Regions from separate parts of the Homo sapiens genome. Here region 2 is linked to region 1. Evidence: fine-mapped expression QTL. A gene starts in region 1. The other region holds a variant in brackets. All regions are shown on one strand. Distances are between the middles of the regions. Region 1 holds the start of NFILZ (NFIL3 like basic leucine zipper). Region 2 overlaps NFILZ (NFIL3 like basic leucine zipper).

Region 1 (2,908 bases):
AGGCGTGAGCCACTATGCCTGGCCATTTTCGTCTTCTTATAAGGACACGAGTCACATTGGATTAGGACCCACCATAACGCAGGAGGACCTCATCTTAAGTTGATTTCATCTGCAAAGACTGTATTTCCAAATAAAGTCTCATTCACAAGTTCCAGATGGGCATGAATTTAGGGGAGGGGACACTATTCAACCCAGTCCAGGGGGCTCTTTTAGAGAGGGAGTTCATGGAAGCATGGAAGGCTTCTTGGAGGAGGCAATATATGATCAGAGGCCTGATTGAAGTCAAGGGGATCTGGGGCAGGAGCATTCTAAGTGGAGGGAACAACGTGTGCAAAGGTCTTGGGGTTGGGCTGTGCCTGTTTTGTTATCTGTTCTGGCATCATAACAGGGTCTGTGTGTACAGCTGGAAGGAAGTGAGTTGATGTGGGAGAGGTGAGGACAGGGAGGTGACAGGGACAGGTCATGAAGGGCCTTGTGGGCTGCAGGAAGGACTTGGGCTTTTACCCTGAGGAGGTGGGAGCCATGGAGGACTGTGGACAGAGGAAGGATGTGAGACCCCAGAGAAGGACAAGACAGCACAAGGGCAGGCTAGGGTCCGGGTTTGGTATCTCACAGAAACCCCACAATCTCCTGGTGTTGGACACTTTATCTCACTCAGATAAAAATACATAAAATGAAAGGAAAGATAAAAATAAATAAAAAGAAAGAAAGGATAGGCCAGGCACGGTGGCTTACGCCTATAATCCCAGCACTTTGGGAGGCCGAGTCGGGTGGATCACCTGAGGTCAAGAGTTAGAGACCAGCCTGACCAACATGGTAAAACCCCGTCTCTACTAAAAATACAAAATTAGCCAAGTGTGGTGGCACATGCCTGTAATCCCAGCTACTTGGGAGGCTGAGACAGGAAAATTGCTTGAACCCAGGAGGCGGAGGTTGCAGTGAGCCGAGACTGTGCCATTGCACTCCAGCCTGGGCAACAAGAGTGAAACTCCATAAAAAAAAAACAAAGAAAGAAATGATAAAAATAAATTAAAGAAAAGAAAACAGGGAGAGAAAGGGAGAGAGTGTATGTTAGTTACCTAGGACTGCTATAACAAAATACTACAAACTTCCAGATGAGGTCTGGTGAGTTTAACTCCCCAGGATCACACAATTGCTCAGTGGTAGATGCACAGTTCAAATCCACACTGGTGTGTGGCATCAGGAATAACCTATGAGAGTGTTCATAGTGTCCATGAACATTGTATTCACTAGCTTCAAACTCCTGTCACTGATAGTTATTTATTTATTTTTGAGTTGGAGTCTCACACTGTCACCCGGGCTGGAGTGCAACAGCATGATCTCTGCTCACCGCAACCTCTGCCTCTTAGGTTCAAGTGATTCTCTTGCCTCAGCCTCCTGAGTAGCTGGGATTATAGGCACGTGCCACCGCGCCTGGCTAATTTTTTGTCTTTTTAGTACAGACGGGGTTTTACTACGTTGGCCAGGTTGGTCTTGAACTCCTGAGCTTGTGATTCACCTGCCCGGGCCTCCCAAAGATCTGGGATTACAGGCGTGAGCCACCGCACCCAGCCTATCACTGATATTTATGATGTCACCTCCATGGCACTTTGTTGGTTGACAATACCTGGGATATCTCCATTATAGCCCTGTTCGTGGGCACAGAGTTCTCTGCCATGGCTGGGGACTAGGAAGTGGGAAAGAGCTCTAGGGGAACCTGAGGGCTTGGGTGGAAGACTGGAGAGCCAGGAGGAGCAAGGAGCAGGAAGCAAGGTGGTAATGATGAGAGGCTGAGTCTTCCTTCCCATGCCTTGGGTGGGACATTTCTGGTCTCTGACACAGGAGGGCATGCAGACCTGGGTTAGGCTCCTCTCTCCCCCACACAGGTCCGGTTGGATCAGCTTATTCCCCCTGCAGCTTAACTACCTCCATCTCCCTTCTGGGATCTCATGATTGCCTTTAATTGGGGCCTTGGATGCCCGGGTCGTGTTGCATGGAACTGCGGCCAAGTGAGGGGATTAAGCAAAGCTGACTAGGATCGTTTCATGCAGATCTTTTCAGAGCCTTTAATAGACACCTGTGCTTTGCACAGCTTTCTCAAACTTACTTAACTCCTTTGATATTTTTTCCTCTGTAGCATTTTGGGGTACCAGGGGTTTCTGGAAGGGATACAGGAATCATTGCTTTAACTCAAAGAGGGTGCCTGAATGGTGGAATTTCAGGCAGGGACTTCTGGCTAAGCATCAAAGGTTTCCTCCTGCTCCTCCCTCTCTGCTTTCCCTTCCCAGGACCCGGGCACTGAGAACAAGGCTGGCACCCCACAGCTCTCTCAGGGGTGGCCCAGTGGGGTTGCAAATTCTAGGCAGGCCAAATTAGGAGCTCACAGGGAGGCTGGAGGGGGTCAGCCCAGGCAGGGCTGGGGGCTGGGCTTGGGATGAACAGGGGGACTGAACAGAGAGGCAGCATTCTGAACTGGAGTTCTGTGCCTGTCCCTTGATCTCTGGGGGGTCTGGAGGCAGGCGTGTCTTCTGGGAAGGCAGCGGAGTCCCCTGGGACAAAGCCCAGGGATTAGCTCAGTAGACAAACATCTGAGTCTTGGCCCCCTCTTCCCCCGAGTCCAGGGTCACAGTGGGAGGCCGCAGATTGGCCCTGTTCTTCTGAAAGTAAACAGGCAGTGCTGGCCTGGCTTCCCCTACATCCAGCCGCCAGGCCTTCGTGTCCAGCCCCTTTGTGCGGCGGCTCCAGCCTCTCAGCCTCCTGGCCTTTCACTTTCTGCCTCCTCCGTCTACACCCGCTGACCTCTTGAAGCGTCTCTAGTGATGGGGACCCTGGGGGCTTGGTCACTCCAGTCCTCGCTTTTGTGTGTGTGTGTGTGTGTGTGTGTGTGTGTGTGTGTTTTGTTTGTTTG
Region 2 (2,908 bases), 36 kb after region 1:
TTGAAGACTGAGTTCCCACAGAAGCGTCTCGGTTTTAGAGATCGGTTTCGCTGGGGGCTTTTATGAGGCAGGGGCTCCATCAGATTGAGAGTGCAGGGCCCCGAGGTTCCATTGGGTTCCCTGAACCCCGTGGAAATGTGGCCCTTCCGAGAAACCTGGGCTGGGCTGCCCAGGGCCGTGGGAATAGCCTCTATGGGTCCCTGGTTCTCCTTGGGCAGACTTTTGAGTCAGAGGAAAGCCAGCTTGGGGAGGAAAGCAATTTCCTCATCTCAGGCCCCCCAAGTCTGGGCAGGAGGGGTGGAGAAGGCAGAGAGCTGGACCTAGAGAAGTAGTCTCCAACTCCCTGCTTGCACACCCCCTGTGACGGGCAGCTCATTACCTATCAAGGCAACCTTGCTTGGTTAGTGAGCTGGAATTCTTACAAAATCCTTTCAGATGCTGGTTCAAAACTGCACCTTCATCCCTCTCTCTGTGGTCCTTACCTAGCTTTCTGGACCACACGGAGCACACCCCCTTCTCCAAATATCTCACACTCTTATATTTATTCGACTGTCTATTCAGGAGATGTGTGGACACAGGGGCAGACCCAGAGAGATTGCTGCAGCAATGGTGGAATCCCACTGGGTCCTGGGAACCTAGAAGGCGCTTCTGGCCTATCTGAGAGGAATCAATTTGGTGGGCTTCCTGTAGGAGGTAGCATCTAAGCTGTGTCTTAAAGGACAAATATGATTTGGCTTAGGGAAGAGGTGAGGGAAGAATGCTTCAGGCAGAAGAAACATTATGTGGAGGTGAGGGACCATTCTTTCATGAAGTAAAAAATGGTCTACGTGGCTGGAGTGGTGTGTTTGAGGAGGGCTAAGGGGGTACTAAGGCCAGAAAAGGGATAGAGAAAAGCCTGGAGCAGTGACCCAGGTAGCAGAAAAACAATACCCTCATTCTTCAAACAGGGTATGAGTCCAAATTTGTTTTGTATTTCTTAAACATTTTTTTAAGAGAGATGGGGTCTTGCTATGTTGCCCAGGCTGGTCTCCAGCTCCTGGCTTCAAGTGATCCTCTCACCTCAGCCTCCCAAAGTGCTGGAATTACAGGCATGAGCCTTCATGCCTGACTCATTTCACATTTCTCAATTGCTTTGCCAGGAAGCAAGGTATACCTTCTAGGTACACAAGTGCCCATCTTACTGCATCCTTGCTAGCATTAGGTTTTATTGTTTTTAAGAAATCTTTGCCAATTTCGGCAGGAAAAATTGGTATCTCATGTAAATGAAAACAAATGAGTATTTCCCTTGTAAGCGACATGCCTAAACAATTTCTCCAGACATGCATTGGCCTGGCAAATGCTACCTTTTGCCTGAGTGTTAAGAAATCTTACACTCGCTGGAGAGTTTGCAGTCATTTTTAGCTCCTCTCTTAGAGCAAAAGAAAAGCTTGTGGGCTACCCTCTGGCCACATGGGTGGAGGAATTTGTGAGGCAGCCTCCTCCCTTCTCCTTTGATTCATCTTTCTTTTTCTCACCTTTT[T/G]TTTTTTGTCCTTTTAAACTTCTCTGTACTCTGTTGGCCTCTGAGTCTTCTGGTAACTGTAGCTTCATCTTCATCTGGGGTGTCTTTGGGCTCAAAAAAGAGGGTTGGCAAACCACAGGAAGACTCCCCAAGTCTTCATAGGAGACTATGCTGATATGCTGAGTATCTTCTTCTTCTTCTTATTTTTGAGACAGGGTGTCACTCCTATCATCCAGGTGGGAGTGCAGTGGTGCCATCACAGCTCATTGCAACCTTGACCTCCTGGGCTCAAGCAACCTCCTGCTTCATTTTTTTTTTTGATTTTTTTGTAGAGACAAGGTCTCACTATGTTGCCCAGGCTGGTCTTGAACTCCTAGGCTCAAGCGATCCACCTGTCTCAGCCTCCCAAAGTGTGAGATGACAGGTGTGCGCCACCGTGCCCAGCCTATGCCAGGTATCTTATATCTTATAGACACATCTTACCATTTTAGTTCTCACAACATCTGCCTATGATGATAACCTTGAACCCCTTTTATAGATGAGGAGCTGAGGCTTAGAGAGGTTAAGTCACTCAGTCAGTATCCCATGGCCAATATTGGCTATTTCTCTTAGTTTCACTCAATAAATTACTCTTATGACATTAAGATTTTATTAAATTCTAATTTAGGAGCAGAGGGTTGGCCATTTATCTTTCTCTTTCTGTCAATCTCTCTCTCCTTTTTTGAGACAGAATCTCACTCTGTTGCCCAGGCTAGAGTGCAGTGGTGTGATCACAGCTCACTACAGCCTCGACCTCCCCAGGCTCAGGTGATCCTCCCACTTCAGCTTCCCAAGTAGCTGGGACCAGAGGTGCACACCACCATGCCCGGCTAATTTTTGAAAACTTTTTTTTTTTTTTTTTTGTAGAGACAGGGTTTTGCCACATTGCCCGGGTTGGTCTCGGACTCCTAAGTTCAACTGTTCCTCCTGCCTCGGCCTCCCAAAGTGTTGGCATTACAGGTGTGAGCCACCTCGCTCGGCTGTTGGCCATCTCTCTCTACCCACTGTCCCACCCTGCCCTGTCAGGGGATGGAAGCCCCATTCCTTATTAGGGAGGGACTGTGGAGTCCAGTTCAGCACCAGCCTTACAATGCAAGGAAAGAAAAGAAAACAGGAAAGAGGGAGGGGAAACCACAAACAACCCTTAGAGAGCCACAAGTGGCTCCAGGGCTCAGTTCCTGAGTTAGACCTCGGTTTTGGGCTGCTAAATTCTAAGCTCCAAGCTCTAGTTCCATCTCTGCCACTAAAACCCCATATGACCTTGATAAATTCTTTACCAGCTTTGGGTCTCAGTTTTTCCTTCTACGAGTCAACCCATCTCTTGGATTTTCTGGGAACTACAGTCATCCCTTGATATCTGGGGGGGATTGG

What was found.
Region 2: its variant is fine-mapped to the expression of NFILZ in whole blood (INTERVAL, PIP above 0.99).

What each region holds. Positions count from the first base shown.
Region 1 is chr19:8,628,972-8,631,879 of GRCh38, forward strand. It overlaps NFILZ (NFIL3 like basic leucine zipper), which reads left to right and starts at 1,662. Exons shown (of 6, transcript NM_001378600.1): 1 at 1,662-1,773. RefSeq lists an enhancer at 2,468-2,762.
Region 2 is chr19:8,664,531-8,667,438 of GRCh38, forward strand. The region is part of intron 3 of NFILZ (NFIL3 like basic leucine zipper); the gene reads left to right. Among named protein-coding and RNA genes, the nearest start is that of ACTL9, 33 kb to the right of the region's middle. The variant T/G (reference allele first, on the strand shown) is at 1,520.